Homo sapiens: one gene and its partners. The protein of the gene in region 4 interacts with the protein of the main gene of each other region in a pairwise test. Each region holds a gene or a part of one and is shown on either strand. Other genes may lie near its edges. The genes, in order: SHANK2, ZMYM5, C1orf116 and HOMER1.

Region 1 (5,392 bases), on a different chromosome or scaffold from region 4:
TGAATTTATACAGCCACTTCCCCAAAGAATTTTATCCTAATGTAATAGACTTTTATGCTCATGGGTCTTTTATTAATCAACCTAGCATACTTCTCTGCACGAAAAATATACATAAATTGACTTTCATAAAATTTCCCATGACCTGGAGTTGCTAAGTATTTAAAAAAATTACTTCTGAATTGAAAAAGCTGTACAGTCATTGCTGGGGCGCAGTTGGTCAAAAACTATAAATATATTACAGATTTTTAGAAATGGAAAAGGGGAGCTGTTACTGGAGCTGCCTCTCTGAGTGAGAAGGCAGTGGGTGTTTTTGGTGTTTTAATTGAAGCCCTAGTTGCATTAGCCCTTTTGTTTTGGTATCAGGAGGGCCCTTCACCTGGAGCTGCACCACCCCCTCACCAGCTTCCGGGGGATAGCTATGCCTTTCTTATGTAAAAGAGCCTCAGGGATGTTAGGGAGGGGAGGTGGGCAGGGGATCCAAGGCCTTTCTCCACTGAGCAATTTCAGGAAAGACTTGGCTACCCTTTAGACTGAGCTGGGTCTACGTGGAAAGGGTCCTTGCACCTCAGTTTGAAGCCCCCTGCAAGGGAGATCTTAGTTCACAAGATTACACCTGTACTCAAGGTCCTGCAGGTGATTCTTACCTGGGGACAGTGATGATACTTACGTGAAGGCAGTGACATGTGATGCCAGGTGTGTGCTCTGCATACTGCCAGGCTTTGCTGCCTCCCTGCAGACTTGGGGGTGTCCTGCCCCACGTCTTCCTCACTCCGGCTCATCAGTCCCCTCCTCTTCTCAAGGAGAATCCAGAGTCAGCACCTAGAGTCCTCGGTGGGGGTGGGGAATGGCCAAGAGTCTGGACAGCTGGCAGTCTGCTCCCTGGTCCACTGGGGTGGGTCCTGGGAGGCTTAGGGCCCAAGGAATGGGGTGCAGGGCATCCTGGGTTTCCAGACCTGGAGCTGACACAGACTTCCGGGCTCCTGGGAGGTGGGAAATGAGCTTCCAAGCCTGTCTTTCCTGAAAATCCTGCCCTGGATTCCTTCCCTGGGGAGAATGCAGGCTTCCTGGGGAGTGGAGGGGGATGCTTCTGTGGCCTCATTTGTACCCCTGAGAGCATAGGGCTCAGCCGTTCCTGTCCATGTTTTTCCTGCCACCCCGCACAAATGTCCCTGGGATTTGAAGAATCTGCTCCACTCCCCTCTTCCCGTACAGGGGCCTGCAAACTAGAGGCATTTGCCCCTGGGCCAGCCGGGCTCCTGTCTGACCCCTCCTCACGAGGTGGACAGGTCCCCCAGGAAAGGGACCACGCCTTGCTCCTGTCTGCATTTCAAGGTCCTACAGTGGCCCCAAGCATGGACCAGGGGACTTTGGCAGGGGAAGATACTGACCCGATGGCGTCGCTACTGCCCCTCGTCTTGGTTCTGGACTTTCCCTCCCTCGAGGGTCATTCAGCTCCAGTGGCTGAACTTGCCGAAGGTCGTGTGGCCCAGCTGGGATCCACACCTGGCGGCTGCCCACTCCACCGTGCAGAAGAAGGCACCGGTCGCTTCCCCGGCCTCCAGATTGCCTCCTGGGTGGCACACCAGTTTATTTTTCTGTTCACTTTCAGGTAAAGCAGATGAGGTAGCACAGTGGTTGTCAGACTTCTAGCTTAAGGAATCTTTTTTGCTCTCTTAGCATTTTGAAGGACCCAGAAGCTTTTTATGTATGAGCACGAATCTATTGTTATTTACGCTATTAGAATTTACAAATATCTAATTATTAATGCATTTAAAAATAGTAATAAACTCATGACATGTTGGTATAAATAATGTGTTTTTATGGATAACAACTATTTTCAAAATAAGAAAAACACTTGGTGAGGCCGGTCGAGGTGGCTCAGGCCTGTAATCCCAGCACTTTGGGAGGCTGAGGCAGGAGGATTGCTTGAGGCCAGGAATTTGAGACCAGCCTAGGCAATATAATGAGACCCCATCTCTACAAAAAATAAAAAATTAGCCAGGTGTAGTGGCACGCACCTGTGGTCCCAGCTACTCAGGAAGCTGAGGTGGGAGGATTACCTGAGCCTGAGAGGTCGATGTTGCAGTGAGCCGTGATCACGCCACTGTACTCTAGCCTGGGTGACAGAGTGAGGAAAAAAAATAGTGCAGTGGCTCACACCTGTAACCCCAGCACTTTGGGAGGCCGAGACGGGTGGATCACTTGAGGTCAGGAGTTCGAGACCAGCCTGGCCAAAATGGTGAAACCCCATCTCCACTAAAAATACAAAAATTAGCCAGGCACAGTGGGGCACACTTGTAGTCCCAGCTACTCAGAAGGCTAAGGCACAAGAGATCACTTGAACCCGGCAGGCGGAGGTTGCAGTGAGCCAAGATTGCCCCACTGCACTCTAGCCTGGGCAACAGAGTGACAGTCCATCTCAACAACAACAAAAAAACACTTGGTGAGAAGAGTGGCATTGTTTAACATTTTTGTGGTCTTTTTGCTGTGAGGTTTAATGGAAGACAGCTGGGTTCCCGTATCTGCTCCTGCAGTCAGCTTGTTGCAATATCACAAGTTTTGTAGCTTCCGTTGTGCACTTGGGAGAGGATGAGCTTGAAAAAGCAGCTCCCATCTCAGTGTTATGATGAGAATGGTTTGACTTCATAGATCTCTCGAATAGGCTGGTTCCCGGGGCTGCACGCTGAGAGCCTCTGGGAGGAGCGTGTGATCCGCCTTGTCAGTGCATGGGTCCCGTTTGAAAGCTGGCTGTGCCATGTGGTCCAAAGGGTGCTTTGAATGATGCATGTACCTTTTCTTGTCGTTCAGGATATGTCTGTGGAGTTTAGTCAGGGGCTTCAGACAGCCACCAGCTGGTTCCGACCCCAGGGGCAGGCCCTCTGATTGTGGGGTCTAGGATGGTGGGAGCATGCAGAGGCACCTTCCAGGCTGTGGGGTCAAGGAGGCTGGCAGAGCCTAAGGCAGTTTAGGAGACTCTGAGAGAGCAGCCTGGCCAATTTATAGAGTGAGGCAGGCTTGCAAGTGTAGACAGGAGAGTGGAGAGGACTTTGTAGGTGTCTGGCTGCCCAAGGAAGCCTATAGTTTTCTTTTGAAGTCTGGTTTTGGTATCAGAGTAATACTGGCCTCATAAGATGACTTGGGAAGCATTGTCTTCCATTTTTTTCTGAAAAGTTTATGCAAAATTGGCCTTCATTCTTCTTTAAATGTTTGGTAGAATTCACCAATAAAGCCATCTGGGCCTAGGCTTTTCTTTGTGAAAACTTTTAAAATTATTGATTGGATCTCTGCTTGTCATAGGTCTTTTTAGATTTTCTGTTTCTTCTTGAGTCAAGTTTGTTAGTTTGTGTCCCACCAGAAATGTGTCCACTTCATGTGAGTTTCTCTAATGTGGTTGCTATGTAGTTGTTTGTAGCACCGTCTCATTATTATTATTGTTATTATTTTTTTGAGACAGAGTCTTGCTCTGTTGCCTAGGCTGGAGTGCAGTGGCGTGATCTCAGCTCACTGCAAGCTCCGCCTCCCGGGCTTACACCATTCTCTTGACTCAGCCTCCCGAGTAGCTGGCACTACAGGCGCCCACCACCAGGCCCAACTAATTTTTTTGTATTTTTAGTAGAGACGGGGTTTCACCGTGCTAGCCAGGATGGTCTTGATCTCCTGACCTCGTGATCCGCCCGCCTCAGCCTCCCAAAGTTCTGGGATTACAGGCATCAGCCACCACGCCCGGCCTGACTCCTTTTAATTCTGTAAGTTGGTAATAATGTCCCTTCTTTCATTCCTGAGTTTGGTAATTTGAGTCTTCCCTTCTTTTCTTGATCATTTCAGCTCAGGTTTGTAAATTTCGTTGATCTTTTCAAATAACCAACTTGTAGTTTCATTGATTTTCTTTATTGCTTTTCTAGCTTAGATTTCATTAACTTCAGCCCTAACCTTTATTATTTCCTTCCTTCTGCTAGCTCAGTTTCAGTTTCCCGTTCTTTTTCTGACTCTCACAAGGTGGAAGGTTTTGGTTATTGATTTGAGATTTTTCTTCTTTTTAACATAGACATTTACAGATCTGAATTTCCTTTAAGTACTGCTTTAGTTGTATTCCATAAGTTTTGATGTGTTTTGTCTTCTTTTTCACTCGTTTCAAAGTGTTTTCCAATTTCCCCGTGGTTTATTCTCTGACCCATTGGCTATTTAGATGTCTGTTTAATTTCCACATATTTGTGCATTTGTAAAATAAATTTCGAATTTCATTCTATTGTGGTTGGAGAACATTATTTGTATAATTTCAGTCCTGCTGATGTTTAATGAGGCTGTTTTATAGCCGGGCATGAGGCCTCTCCTGGAGAATGTTCCACGTGCCCTTGAGAAGAATGAGTATTCTGCCGTCTTTTGTGGCATGTGCTGCAGGTGTCTGCTAGGCTGCTCTAGACTCTGGGATACAACAGTGAACCAGACAGACAAATATTTCTGCCCTTGTAGGGTCGACATCCTCGCCAGGGGAGCAAACAATAATTAAAGGAGATCATAAATAAGCAGTGATGTAGTGTGGGAGGAAAGGAGAGCTTGCTGGTGGGGGCTGGGAGCCAGGGGGGCTGCTGTTTTAGCAGGATGGTCGGGGTGAGCTGCATTGAGGTAGCGGTCCTTGAGCAAACACTTAAAGGAGGTAAAGGAAGCGGTGTGTGATACAGGAAGAGTTCAGTGGAAATTGAGAGCACTTTTTTTCCCAATGCACATTTTATAAATTGTGCAAAATACCTATAACATAAAAAGTTACCCTTTTCACCATTTTTAGGTGTGTAGTTCTGAGGCATTAAGGATGCTCATCGTGCTCTGCAGCCATCGTCACCATGTATCTGTAGAACTCTTCAGCTTGCAGAACTGAAACTACGTCCCCACTAAACACTAGCAAACCAGCCCCCTTCTCCCAGCCCCTGGCGACCACCAGTCTGTTTTCTGTCTCTTTGACTTCTGTAGGGACCTCATCCAAGTGGAATCATGCAGTGTTTGTCTTTTTGAGTCTGGCTTAATTCACTCAGCATAATGTTCTCAAGCCTCATCCATGTTGTAGCGTGTGTCAGAATTTCCTTCCTTTTTGTGGCTGAGTAATATTCCATTGTGTGGATGGGCCACATTTTGTTTATACATTCATCCATCCTTGAGGACCTGGGTGGCTTCACCCTCTGGCTGTTGTGAATAATGCTACTGCGAACATGGTTGTGCAAGTATCTTGAGTCCTTGCTTTTAGAAAACACCTTCAAAAGCAGCGTCCAGCCCCAGGCCCGTCTGGTCTTGAGATACTAAAGCTGAGATCTTTTACCCACTCGCTCCAGCCTAGGCTGCTTTCTCACAGAAGGAGGCCCCACCTTTCTTCATGGGTCTCAGGAGAAAGTAGGGGTGACCC
Region 2 (3,500 bases), on a different chromosome or scaffold from region 4:
CCTGGTCAACATGGTGAAACCCCGTCTCTACTAAAAATACAAAAATGGGCTGGGCATGGTGACTCACACCTGGAATCTCAGTACTTTGGGAGGCCAAGGCAGGCAGATCACCTGAGGTCGAGAGTTCAAGACCAGCCTGACCAACATGGAGAAACCCTGTCACTACAAAAAAAAAAATACACACACACACACACACACACATACACACACACACACACAAAATTAGCCGGGCCTGGTGGCACATGCCTGTAATACCAGCTACTTGAGAGGCAGAGGTTATGGTGAGCCGAGATTGTGCCATTGCACTCCAGTCTGGGCAACAAGAGCAAAACTCTGTCTCAAAAAAAAAAAAAAAAATTAAACGGGTGTGCTGGTGGGTGCCTGTCATTCCAACTACTCAGGAGGCTGAGCCAGGAGAATCACTTGAACCCAGGAGGCGGAGGTTGCAGTGAGCCAAGATCACACCACTGCACTCCAGCCTGGGCGACAGAGTGAGACTCCATCTATAATTCTTTTTTTTTCCTCTTTTTTTTTTTTTTTTTTTTTTTGAGACAGTCTTGCCCTGTCACCCAGGCTGGAGTGCAATGGCGTGATCTAGGCTCACTGCAACCTCTGCCTCCTGGGCTCAAGCGATTCTTGTGCCTCAGCCTCCTGAGTAGCTGAGACTATAGGTACATGCCACCACGTTGGCTAATTGTTGTATTTTTAGTAGAGACAAGGGACTGACCATGTTGGCCAGGCTGGTCTCGAACTCCTGACCTAAGTGATCCGCCCGCCTTGGCCTCCCAAAGTGCTGGGATGATAGGCACCCACTACCACACCCGGCCTGTGTAATTAGTTTTTTAAAAATTTTTATTTAAAATTTTTGTGGGTACATAGTAGGTGTTACATATATTGCATAATTCTTGACTGTTTTATTTATGATTAAGAATTGGGAACTAAAGGCCGGGCACAGTAGCTCACACCTGTAATCCCAGCACTTTGGGAGGCCAAGGTGGGCAGATCATGAGGTCAGGAGATTGAGACCATCCTGGCTAACACGGTGAAACCCCATCTTTACAAAAAATACAAAAAAAAAAATCAGCTGGGCATGGTGGCAGGTGCCTGTAGTCCCAGCTACTCAGGAGGCTGAGGCAGGAGGATGGCGTGAACCTGGGAGGTGGAGCTTGCAGTGAGCCAAGATCGCGCCACTGCACTCCAGCCTGGGTGACAGAGCGAGACTCCGTCTCAAAAACAAACAAACAAACAAACAAACAAAAAACGGGAACTAAAAAGCAAATTGGAAGAGTGAGAGTGGGGTTTCCAACTTGAAGCTTGCGGGTGATCTTCTGGCCAATTGATGGGGAACCCCATAGGTTAATATTTTTAGGACTTTCCTTTTTTGCTGATTCTTAGTTCCGCAGGGAAGAGTCTTGCTCAGAAAGAAAGCCTCCAGAAAAGAGTTTGCTGCCTGGAAAATAGAAGTCTGGATGCCAGCTCTCTGGGAATCAAGTAGGAGAGGGGACATTTTTTTTTTTGAGATGGAGTTTTGCTCTTGTTGCCCAGGCTGGAATGCAGTGGCGTGATCTCGGCTCACTGCAACCTCTGCCTCCTGGGTTCAAGCAATGGAGAGGAGATATTTCATGGTATTGAAACATTCCCCAGTGCTTGGTGAACCCAAGACTTAGATCTTATGTTCTATCTTATCAAAGAAAAAATTTTTAGAATCTGTGCTAGGATGGGGAAAGGCCTGTCACCATCAACTTGATGGGAGGGAAGATATCTCTCAACCTCTTTTCTTAGCATCTGCCCATTCTGTTCCAGGGATATGTGGTGCTACAGATTTCTGAGCCTACAGTGGAAATCAGAATGTTTCTTGGCTTTTTATTCACTGTTTTAGACTCTGGCTATCTCAGGTTGGCAGTTAACCATTCATCCATCTGTTCTTTGGCTTATAAAATCATATTGCTTTTGTTTCTTATTCTTCCTTTCCTTGTGGTAGTCCTGTTTAGGGGAGTTTTGGAAGGGAACGAAGTTAGTTGTATGTGATCAATCGGCCATCTTTTTTTTTTTTTTTTTTTTTTTGAAACAGCGTCTCTCAGTCTGTCACCCAGGCTGGAGTGCAGTGGCCCATCTCGGCTCACTGCAGCCTCTATCTCCCAGGCTCAAACAAGCTGCCTGCCTCAGTTTCCCAAGTAGCTGGGACCACAACCATGTGCCACTATGCCTGGCTAATTTTTGTATTTTTTGTAGAGACAAGGTTTCGCCATGTTGCCTAGGCTGGTCTTGAACTCCTGGACTCAAGCGATCCACCTGCCTAGGCCTCCCAAAGCGCTGGGATTACAGGGGCATTATACTGCACCTGGCCCACTTTACTGTCTTAATCCCTGCTGGGCTAGTGATTTCTAGGCAGAGTTGTTTTTTCTGTTTGTTTTTTGTCTTTGTGGTTTTTTTGTTTTTTTTTTTTAATTTTTAGAGACAGGTCTAACTCTGTTGCCCAGACTTTAGTGCTGTGGTGTGGTCATAGCTCACTGCAGCCCTGAACTCCTGGGCTCAAGTGATTCTCCTGCCTCAGTCTCCCAAGTAGCTGGGGATTACAGGCGTGCACCACCATGCCCAGCTAATTATTTTATTTTATTATATTTATTTTTTATTTTTGAGACAGGGTCTTGCTCTGTTGCCCAGGCTGGAGTGCAGTGGTGTGATCATGGCTCACTGCAACTTTGACCCCCTGGGCTCAAGCCATCCTTCCACCTCAGCCTCCCAAGTAGCAGCGACTACAGGCGTATGCCACCATGTTGGACTTTTTAAATTTTTGTAGAGAGGGGTCTCTCTGCATTGCCCAGGCTGGTCTTGAACTCCTGGGCTCAAGCTATCCTCCCATCTTATTCAGCCTCCCAAAGTGCTCAGATTATAGGCATGAGCCACTGTACCTGGCCTTTATTTTTTTGTAGAGATGAGTTCTCAGTTTGTTGCCCAAGTTGGTCTTGAACTCCTGGCCTCAAGTGATCCTCCTGCCTTGGCCTCCCTAAGTGTTAGGATTATAGGTGTGAGGCACCAGGCCCAATTTAGATAGTAATTTTGTACCTAGTTCCTGCAGTAATTCTCTTGCTATTTGTGGTAGTAGTTCAGTTGACTCTTCTTTTTTCTGATCTCATTACTTTTGTGAGTACCTTCAGAGTCATGGTACACCTTTATATCTGATTTTAAATAGGTGTGCTTATATACTCAACTGTGAAGTGTCTCTGAAAGTAGTCTACAAGAAGAGCTAAATAGGTCAAAGTACATTTATTCATTTCTTTGTTTTATGTTAACCCTTATCTTTACACCTAAATATCCCGTTAAATTTACGTTGTTTCCCATTCTCTAGAGATAGTTTACATGTAAGCATTTTGCTAGTGTTATAATTTGTGTATGAATAAGATACCACAAGAAGACTAGTTAAATGTTTAAAATTAGACAGTTGCTGAAATCCCAGCATGTAGCAATGTAGCATAGTATTTGCCTAAATACCTTTTTAT
Region 3 (5,392 bases), on a different chromosome or scaffold from region 4:
CATTACTTTAGTCTCTTACAAAGATCAAAGAAAATAGGTAATTAGGAGCCTAGGTTCTGGAACCAAACAGATTTAAGTTCTCTACTTATAAGCTGTATGACCTTGGGCAAATTACTTAATTTCTCTAAGCTTTAGCCTCCTCAGTTTTCAAATGGGATACTTAGTGTTCATACCCAATTCAATTTGTGGGGAGTAAATGTGATACAGGTAAAGCACCTAGCATATGCCTCTATATAGAAAAGAATCAGCCTTTCTAGGAGCAGAGACTGAGAATCTTCCAAAGTCACTGTGTTTAGCTACTTGTGAGTGGCATTTAATAAACTGTAATTTTTCTGGGCATGAATTTAAATCTCAGTTGTTGTGAGGCTGGTGTGAAAGAGTAAATCTGTGCTGCATCCAGACGCAAACATTTGTTGTTCATGCTTGTCACATACATAAGAATCATAGAGAATTTATGCTTTTTTGCATTGTATCCTATAGAGGTATTTGAAAATTTAAGGGTGTCTACTGAATGTCAAGATGTTTAAGACAACCAGTGGATTTTGATATGTAAAAATAGAGTAGAGAAAGAAACACACATGCACAAATCCAAAGTGCAGACAATCATACAAATTTCATTTTGACCCTAGATAATGGGGCTGTGGAGACGTCTTTCTATGTCTTTTAGGCTGAGGCCAACGTGAATAGTCACATAGCATTGGACACAGAATGTGACAGGGATTAAAGGTTTTCAAAGTGAATCATTCATGAAGGAGAAACTCAGAGTCAGCTTATCCTTGGCAAGGCTATTTTAGGAGGAAGAGGACAATAAAGATATTTTTCTTCAAGAAACTCTTGGCGTCAGCTTCAGAGCTTCCAGGGGCTATATTTGGGGCTTGCTTTAACATGTAGGCCCACATGCGAAAGGAAGTTCCAGAGGCAAATGGAAGGGTTATTCTGCAACCCTCTCCCCTCCCTCCAGGATATTTTTAGAGCTGTCTCAAAATCTTTCCTGGCCATCTGAGTGGGCCTGAAGAATATACAACTCTGAAGTGTCCCAAATATTAGGAAAAGGGCTGGAGATGCCAAGAAGAGACTTGGCCCAAATTTCTTATATTCCAATTTGCCCTTTTGTTTTCCCTTCAACCTCCTCTGTGGAAGAGCAACTATTCCAGCAAACTTCTAGCCCCATACAACATAGACAGTAACTGTCTGAGATGACCATTATTATTTTCTTCCAAAAACCTCTATGTACTCTCTCATAATGAATATGATCTACTTTAAGATCTACTTAATATTTAATACTAAGCTGCTTTTCCCTCCTCCCATACCATCCAGTTTCTCCACCAACCTCCCCCTTTAAGTTAATATTTGCTTTAGAAATGCACACTTACTTGAACATTAGCCAGAGCCAAATGTCATCAAGAAAGTAAATGTACAAGGGGAAAAATTCCCGTATGGAATGCATTTCAAAGTCAAGTACAAATCATTTAGTACATTTATCTGTGGCCAGTCATGCCACAGTTCCTACTGGCCTGGCAGCTCATAGCTGGCTTCATTTCCTGCTTTTCCTCATACTGCCCTTGACATACCAGATCAAGTATGCAGAAGTACTTTTAAAAGTTAAAAGCAATACCACTGAAGTTTCAGGTCAAATTGTTATGTTGCACTTCTTATTTGGAGCTAAATCAGAGGTGCTCAAAGTGAGATGTTTGACAAAGGCTGTCAAACATTGAAACTTGGGACTGCTTCTAATCTGTGCCCCTAAGCATTCAAGCCAGGACTGAGCAAAAGAAAGGCCCCTGCCATGTGCCTGCCCAGCTCCAGAGCTGGGCGCTAGTGGGCCAGCCTCCTGACAGACTCTGCCCTCCCTGGTGCCTACAGTTTCAGGAGGCAACTCCAGCAGCTTTGCAGAGTAGCAGGAGGGAAAGGTTTCCAGCTCTTCAGCATTCCTTCCTCTCTGCAGGGTGGTTCTCAGGCCCCGCCAGTTTCTGCGGAGGGAGCGCTTTCTCACAGCTCTCTCTCCCTCTCCTGTTCTTCTTCTCGCCCTCCCCCCCGCCTCCCCGCCCCCGCCCCCAACCCCAAACCCAACAGAGTGATAGCAGCTACGACTTCCTGTCCACTGAAGAGAAGGAGTGTCTGCTCTTCCTGGAGGAGACCATTGGCTCACTGGACACGGAGGCTGACAGCGGACTGTCCACTGACGAGTCTGAGCCAGCCACAACTCCCAGAGGTTTCCGAGCACTGCCCATAACCCAACCCACTCCCCGGGGTAAGGCAGACCCTCTGGGGTGGAACCCCAGCAAAACCCAGAAAATCAATATGTCCCCTCCGGCCACTTTCTACCTCGCCTGCCCTCTACCCCAAGGGTCACAGGCAGAAGAAGGTGTAGCCACACTCCTCACCACTCTCCTGGCTAGAACAGAGCCTTGTCCCTGGAGGGAAGGAGGGACCCCTGGCAAGCCAGCTTCCTATGTCTGTCTATGAAGTATCAGAGCTCTAGAAGGGAAAGGGGTTTGACCAGCTCCCATTCTCCTGTGGAAAAATTCTAAAGAGATATGACCGCAGAGGCGGGGGAGGGAGTCAGGGAGGGCTGGGTGGTTGGCTCTGGAGAGACTGAGTCAGTCTAGAGAGCTAATCTGGGTGACACAGAGGACAAGGGTAGGAGAGATAAGGAGAAGGAAGGGCTCCCCAGCTGCAGTGGGAAGTACCTCAAGGCCCTCGTTAGAGAGCGTGGAAAGCCAGTGGTATTCAGGCTCAGCAGAAGGGGAACAAAACAACACACAAGTGTGGCCATGACTGTGGGGCCACATGTCCCAGGGTGTGAGAAACCTTTTACTCCTGAGGACAGTCCCGCTGGTATTGGGGCTGCAGTTTTGTGTTGTTTCATTTAGCAAATATTTATTAACAAGTAGTTAGACCTTCCCTGGAGCTAGAGCTATAAATGGGGACGTAGGGCTTTCCTGCTCCATGAGGCTGATTCACTGGCCCAGGGGGCCTGATGTACCTGCCTAGCTCACTGGAAGGAAAGGAGTCACTTTCTGGTGTGGGGACACTATGGCTATTACAGAATTATCCACATGCTCATAGAAAGTGCAAGTAGAAGGCAGAAGCCTGGTTGAATCAAGAGCAAATCACTTATTCAGAGGCTTGCATTGGGCTCAGTTATCTGGGAGGCCCAAAATAGCTAGAAGGAACTGTCCCAAATTTATCTCCAACCCTGGTGCCTCTGTAGAAAACTGGGGAGAGGTCAAGTCAATAACTTAGAGCAATCAGGGGTCACTCTCTTGCCGCCCATCATGAAAAATTAATTCTCAGTCAAAAAAAGATATGCTATTATTATTTGTAGAAATGGGGGTCTCTTATGTTGCCCTGGTTGGTCTCGAACTCTTGGGCTCAAATGATCCACTTGCTTTGGCCTCCCAAAGTGCTGGGATTACAGGCATGAGACACTGCGCCTGGCCCTGGATCTGCTATTACTGATCTATTAGTCTAAATGATATCCAGACAAAAGTGCTGCTCTTGTAAAAGCAAAGAAAACAAGGCAAAATAAAACCCATTCATTGCTAGTTTGGGATCAGAGTTCAGGAAGTCATTGCTTTCCCCTCTGCAGCAGGGCCCTCACCTCTGTCCACTCTTTTTCTGTCCACTCTTTTATGTTCTTTCTGACCCTCACAGGAGGTCCAGAGGAGACCATCACTCAGCAAGGACGAACGCCAAGGACAGTAACTGAGTCCAGCTCATCCCACCCTCCTGAGCCCCAGGGCCTAGGCCTCAGGTCTGGCTCCTACAGCCTCCCTAGGAATATCCACATTGCCAGAAGCCAGAACTTCAGGAAAAGCACCACCCAGGCTAGCAGTCACAACCCTGGAGAACCGGGGAGGCTTGCGCCAGAGCCTGAGAAAGAACAGGTCAGCCAGAGCAGCCAACCCAGGCAGGCACCTGCCAGCCCCCAGGAGGCTGCCCTTGACTTGGACGTGGTGCTCATCCCTCCGCCAGAAGCTTTCCGGGACACCCAGCCAGAGCAGTGTAGGGAAGCCAGCCTGCCCGAGGGGCCAGGACAGCAGGGCCACACACCCCAGCTCCACACACCATCCAGCTCCCAGGAAAGAGAGCAGACTCCTTCAGAAGCCATGTCCCAAAAAGCCAAGGAAACAGTCTCAACCAGGTACACACAACCCCAGCCTCCTCCTGCAGGGTTGCCTCAGAATGCAAGAGCTGAAGATGCTCCCCTCTCATCAGGGGAGGACCCAAACAGCCGACTAGCTCCCCTCACAACCCCTAAGCCCCGGAAGCTGCCACCTAATATTGTTCTGAAGAGCAGCCGAAGCAGTTTCCACAGTGACCCCCAGCACTGGCTGTCCCGCCACACTGAGGCTGCCCCTGGAGATTCTGGCCTGATCTCCTGTTCACTGCAAGAGCAGAGAAAAGCACGTAAAGAAGCTCTAGAGAAGCTGGGGCTACCCCAGGATCAAGATGAGCCTGGACTCCACTTAAGTAAGCCCACCAGCTCCATCAGACCCAAGGAGACACGGGCCCAGCATCTGTCCCCAGCTCCAGGTCTGGCTCAGCCTGCAGCTCCAGCCCAGGCCTCAGCAGCTATTCCTGCTGCTGGGAAGGCTCTGGCTCAAGCTCCGGCTCCAGCTCCAGGTCCAGCTCAGGGACCTTTGCCAATGAAGTCTCCAGCTCCAGGCAATGTTGCAGCTAGCAAATCTATGCCAATTTCTATCCCTAAGGCCCCAAGGGCAAACAGTGCCCTGACTCCACCGAAGCCAGAGTCAGGGCTGACTCTCCAGGAGAGCAACACCCCTGGCCTGAGACAGATGAACTTCAAGTCCAACACTCTGGAGCGCTCAGGCGTGGGACTGAGCAGCTACCTTTCAACTGAGAAAGATGCCAGCCCCAAAACCAGCACTTCTCTGGGAAAGGGCTCCTTCTTGGACAAGATCTCGCCCAGTGTCTTACGTAATTCTCGGCCCCGCCCGGCCTCCCTGGGCACGGGGAAAGATTTTGCAGGTATCCAGGTAGGCAAGCTGGCTGACCTGGAGCAGGAGCAGAGCTCCAAGCGCCTGTCCTACCAAGGACAGAGCCGTGACAAGCTTCCTCGCCCCCCCTGTGTCAGTGTCAAGATCTCCCCAAAGGGTGTCCCCAATGAACACAGAAGGGAGGCCCTGAAGAAGCTGGGACTGTTGAAGGAGTAGACTCTGCGACCAGTACAGACCCTGTCCTGGCTGAACAAGAAGAGACACATGCTCCACTTGGGAGCCTTTGCCACCACGCAACTCAGGGCTCAAGATGAATGGGAGGGAGAGATTTGAGTCCAAGCATACATTTATATTCAGTGTTGTGCCATTGAGTTCCCATGTGGATCATTCTGAAGGTGATCTCCACAAGAGGGTGTGTGTGTGTGTGT
Region 4 (5,392 bases):
ATGACAAGCTTGTTTGCTTGAGCTAGCTCCCTTTGGTGTAGCAAGAGATAGGTCTAGAGCCTTATTATGCAGGGACTGGGTTGGAGAACCATGTAGATCAAATGAAAGATTGGATTATCCTGTAGTTTAGTGTGTTTAGAGGTTTTTTTGGCTATGACCCGTTGGAAAGATAAGCATCTTTACATTGCAACCCAATATGCTTGTATATAAATGATAAAATGTCACTACATAATACCCTTGCTTTGTATGGTACACTCTGGTAGTTTCTATTCTGTTCCGTTCTATTTTATTTTTAAGATAGACTGATGATGGTGACCCACTCAATTTATTTAATGACGCTGTGTTAGCAACTGGTAATTTGAAAAGCACTTCTCTTCTGTGTGAAGATTACTAAAGGGTTTTAAGCAGAGTAAGAACATGATCAGGGAAGTAGAATAAGAAAGCAATTTTAAAAATCATTTACAATTTGGTTTTGTGTCTTGTATCCTGTGGAAACACCAAGCCAGAACAATGAACTCTGGCTGGGTAGAGGAAGTGGACAGTTGGGCAGGCCCTGGAAGGTTCCGAAGTGGGGAGGGGAGGGATGGTGACTGAGAGATGTGTAGTTGGCTGAACGGGGCTTTTTCAGAATTAGGACATTTCATTGGAGAGGTAAGAATGTAGCAAAGAGCATGGTATGTTCTTAGCAGAGTCACTAACTATGGGTCATAAAATAGTGAATTTGGGAGTTAAGGGGTTGACAGAAGAAACTGTCCTTATTCATAGTTTATAGTTTTGAGTGATTAAACATCTCAGAAGAAAAGGTGGTTATATCCCAAAAGGTCTAACCTCTCTACTGCCATGTGATTTTTTTTTTTTTCAGTCTTTAGTGTTTAGTTGAAGTATTTATTTTTAGTTACTGGATTGTTATTTCAGATTAATATGACTAACTGGACAGAAGAGTAGGGAAAATGAGTGCCGAGTGCTTAATGTTTTCTGATATAATTTTTTTCTGATGTAGTTTTTAAATGACTATAAAACATTTTACATAGATTTATATCTCAGGTCGTATCTCGTGGAATGAAATGTGCAGTTTTTTTGTGTTGCATATTTGTAATGCCTTATGACCCGTGGCTAATATTTCTGTTTGTTTTTGAAAAGTTGAGTGATTTTGAGGCATTGCAAAGTTTCAGGTCTGTTAAATATGTTCATTTCAAAAGAATCTACATGTGATAAGGAATATTTATTTAGATTTTAGCCCATCTACCATCTAGAAGAATTGAGATAAAATTTTCACATCTATCTTACTGAATGAGTATTGCAAGAGTAGGTAAAACTGTTTTTTTTTTGTTTTGGTTTTTTTTTTTTTTTTTTTTTTTGAGATAGAGCCTCACTCTGTCACCCAGGCTGGAGTGCAGTGGCGCGATCTTGGCTCACTGCAACCTCCGCCTCCCGGGTTCCAGCATTTCTCCTGCCTCAGCCTCCCAGGTAGCTGGGACTACTGGTGCGCGCCACCACACCTGGCTAATTTTTGCATTTTTTAGTAGAGACGGGGTTTCACCGTATTGGCCAGGCTGGTTTCGAACTCCTGACCTCGTGATCTGCCTGCCTCGGCCTCCCAAAGTGCTGGGATTACAGGCATGAGCCACCGCGCCCTGCCAAGAGTAGGTAAAACTTTTTAAAAGCTAATCATTCAATGGTCTTCAGTATGTGAATAAAATCATATATATATATATTTTTTTGTTTGTTTGGTTTTGTTTTTGAGACAGTGCAGTGGCCCATGCTGGAGTGCAGTGGTGCCATCATGGCTTACTGCAGCCTTGACCTCTCAGACTCAAGCAATCCTCCTACTTTAGACTCCCGAGTAGCTGGGACTATAGGCTCACACCACCATGGCAGGCTAATTTTTGTACTTTTTGTAGGCATGGGGTTTCATCATGTTGCCCAGGCTCGTCTTGAACTCCTGAACTCAAGTGATCCGTCTGCCTTGCTGTGAGCCATCACGCCTGGCCAAAATCATGTATTTTAATCTTAATTTTTACAGCACGCCTCTCCATAGTCTATAAAATTAGGACATCCATAATGACTCTCTGTTAAAAGAGTCAACTTTATTGATGAACTTATGTTCTTAATTTTAGCATTTCATACCTTTTGATACTCCTTTTTCCGTCTGTCCTGAGTGTAACACATTTGTCATTTCTGTGCTCCTTCATGAAATGTCTGAGAAAGGAAAAAAAGATGAAACTGATAAGAATCAATGCTGTTTGTTTTAAGCAGTATTTTTGAGGGAAATTATCAACACATATAATCTTTTTTGCTTTGCCTTTTTCTTCTACTTGGATTTTTTAAAATCTTGTTTTTGAAAGTTTTTATCGCTTGAACCTGTGAGGCGGAGGTTGCAGTGAGCCGAGATTGCCCCATTGCACTTGAGCCTGGGCAACCAGAGGGAAACTCCATCTCAAAAAAATAAATAAATAAATAAATAAAAGTTTTTAAAAATTTGTTCACTTCTCTGGTAAGTACAATTTAGAATTAATTTAATTTTTTTTGTCTGCTAAACATTTCAGATAATAGAATTAATTTTATAGGGTCATCTTTTTTACTATTCTTTCAGTGAGGTTTTGTCCGCCCAAAAATGGATTGTGAAGCCAGTATGGCTCTTGCGTAGCTAAAATAATTTTATACATAGAACTAACATTTGACTTAGTTAATAACTGAATCTTATTTACCCTTATTTATGTTTTTTTCTATTAAGGTAGACTACTAAAGGAAGGCAAAAAGTCATTGTTTTCTGTCTTGTATCAGAAAATAAAATTGTTTATAAAACCCCCCAAAACCAGTAATCTAATCAATGTTTTATCTTCATAGTACACTTACCTTTTCATTTTCTCTACCTTTTAAAAAATCACCTTTATCTCTTAACACCTAATATTAATATTAGCTTTAAAAATTAGCTTGGCTTTACGAACATCTTATTTTAATGTTCTTTCATAAAACAAGAAGAGTTTCAATGTTATCTTTTGAGAAGTGTTGGCACCATGTCCTCAAGGCACAAAAGTTGTAAGAATTGAGGGCTTTCTGTAAAATTACCAAGCAAGAGTTAGGTAGACATTAAATACAAACAAAAAACTGTGCTTAGGGAACACAATTTCATTACTTTACAAGATCATTGAAAGTCATGTTTATTATGTCATGTCTATTGGCATGTCTGGATCCATGTGGTCACATGCCTCAGAGTCCAGAGGCCTGTAGAGGAGAATGTCCATGATTCCCCCCCTTTCCATAGAATGGTTTGTTCCTAATTTCTCATTGTCTAGTTGGGGAGTCTTTTTTGAAACAGAGTCTTGCTGTGTCACCCAGGCTGGAGTGAAGTGGCACCATCTCAGCTCACTGCAACCTCCATGTCCCAGGCTCAGATGATTCTCCTGCCTCAGCCTCCGGAGTAGTTGGGACTACAGGTGCACCACCACACCTGGCTAATTTTTGTATTTTTGGTAGAGATGGGGTTTCATCATGTTGGTCCTGACCTCAAGTGCTCCACCCACCCTGGCCTTTCAAAGTGCTGGGATTATGGGCATGAGCTACTGTGCCCAGCCTAGTTGGGGAGTCTTAATAGAAGTCTACTGAGAGACATAGCTCTGATACATATCTCTTTGGGTATTATACGCTGTGCTTCCTAACCCACAAGTTCATAGTGCAGTACATATGTGCAATATTAGTTGAAAGGATTTGGGGGAATTAGTGCTCATAAATAGAAAATCCTGATTTCTAGCAATTAGGCCGATAGTTGGATATACCAATTATTTTTCTGATAATTTTTCTAAGTAAATTTTTGGATTCTTTTATATTTACGTATATCTCAATCTTAAGTAGTTATTGTCTTTCTTCTGTTTTATTTAAGTATTTATAAGAGTTGTTCTGAACAAGACTTTCTTTGTGTGAGTTGGAATTTTCTGCCCAGTTACTTTCTAGCTTCCCTCATTGGCTCTTAGTAATGATCTTTAGGACATGACTATCAAAGACCTCAAAATACTCATATTAGGAATTTCTATCAGTCAGTCTTCCTGGAAGATAAGTCTGTACATTCCTAAATGTATATGGGACAAATATTTTGAACCTATTATAATATTTAAGTTGCTTAGCCTATCCCTTTACCTTTCTGTGCCCTTTTTTTTTTTTTTGCTTATTCTTTTGTAAAACAGTGCTGTTTTCTTTCTTACTCTGTTATGAATCACTGTCTCATGGCTTTTAACATTAAAATTTGTGTGCTTTGCTTAATCACTCTGCCAGCTCCCAGGATGTTTACAGATTGAGGATTCCTCCTACTCTTGTTTACTGAGTATTGCCAGGGTTCTGTATACATTAAGCTCAGTGGGACTACTCCCAAGTCACTCTTAAACTCGTCTTTCTTGAGATTCTGTTGATTTAAAAAAAAAAATTCTAGATCTCGCAGGCTGCTGTTTTCCTTACCCAAGTGATGATCTGTAAGATTTTAGTTGTGTATTTCATTGTTGCTTTCATTTAGTATTTTACTATTGTTAAATTGATATTTATTGCTATGCATATGTTAGTATAGTGGAAATAGACATTAATGATGACATTGCTGTTTAATTGTATTTTGCAACATTTTAGTACAGATGCCCTTGAACAACACAGGTTTGAACTGTGTAGGTTCACTTAAATGCAGAGTTTCTTCCACTGCTGTCACCCCTGAGACAGCAAGACCAACCCTTCCTCCTCTTCCTCCTCAGCCTGCTCAATGTGAAGATGAAGATAAGAATATTTATGATGATCGACTTCCACTTAATGGATAGTAAATACATTTTCTCTTACTTATGATTTTCTTCTTTCTTTTTTTTTTTTTTTGGAGGCAGAGTCTTGCTGAATCCCACCCAGCTAATTTTTGTATTTTTAATAGAGACGGGGTTTTGCCATGTTGGCCAGGCTGGTCTTGAACTTCTGACCTCGGGTGAACCACCTGCCTCAGCCTCCCAAAGTGCTGAGATTACAGGCGTGAGCCATGGCACCTGGCCTCTGTTTTTTTTTTTTTTTTTTTTCTCTTTGTGACAGAGTCTCACTCTGTCACCCAGGCTGGAGTGCAGTGGCATGATCTTGGCTTACTGCAATCTCGCCTCCTGGGTTCAAGTGATTCTCTTGTCTCAGCCTCCTGAGTAGCTGGGATTACAGGCGCATGCTGCCAAGCCTGGCTAATTTTTGTATTTTTAGTAGAGACGGGATTTCGTGTTTTCCAGGCTGGTCTCGAGCTCCTGACCTCAAGTGATCTGCCTGCCTCAGCCTCCCAAAGTGTAGGGATTACAGGCGTGAGCCGCCATGCCTGGCCTGCTTTTCTTAATAACATGTTTTATTTTTCCCTAGTTTACTTAATTGTATGAGTACAGTATATAATACACAT

The links.
Region 1: the proteins of HOMER1 (region 4) and SHANK2 interact in binary tests that used the Homo sapiens proteins (3 or more experiments, as listed by UniProt).
Region 2: the proteins of HOMER1 (region 4) and ZMYM5 interact in binary tests that used the Homo sapiens proteins (3 or more experiments, as listed by UniProt).
Region 3: the proteins of HOMER1 (region 4) and C1orf116 interact in binary tests that used the Homo sapiens proteins (3 or more experiments, as listed by UniProt).

The regions. Positions count from the first base shown.
Region 1 is NC_000011.10:71,241,750-71,247,141, reverse strand, and holds part of SHANK2 (SH3 and multiple ankyrin repeat domains protein 2), read left to right. Parts: intron 1-3,613; exon of another isoform or gene 3,614-3,746; intron 3,747-5,392. UniProt on the Homo sapiens protein: Seems to be an adapter protein in the postsynaptic density (PSD) of excitatory synapses that interconnects receptors of the postsynaptic membrane including NMDA-type and metabotropic glutamate receptors, and the actin-based cytoskeleton.
Region 2 is NC_000013.11:19,857,150-19,860,649, reverse strand, and holds part of ZMYM5 (zinc finger MYM-type protein 5), read left to right. Parts: intron 1-3,500. UniProt on the Homo sapiens protein: Functions as a transcriptional regulator.
Region 3 is NC_000001.11:207,021,746-207,027,137, reverse strand, and holds part of C1orf116 (specifically androgen-regulated gene protein), read left to right. Parts: intron 1-2,073; coding exon 2,074-2,251; intron 2,252-3,657; coding exon 3,658-5,180; 3' UTR 5,181-5,392. UniProt on the Homo sapiens protein: Putative androgen-specific receptor.
Region 4 is NC_000005.10:79,503,179-79,508,570, reverse strand, and holds part of HOMER1 (homer protein homolog 1), read left to right. Parts: intron 1-5,392. UniProt on the Homo sapiens protein: Postsynaptic density scaffolding protein. Binds and cross-links cytoplasmic regions of GRM1, GRM5, ITPR1, DNM3, RYR1, RYR2, SHANK1 and SHANK3.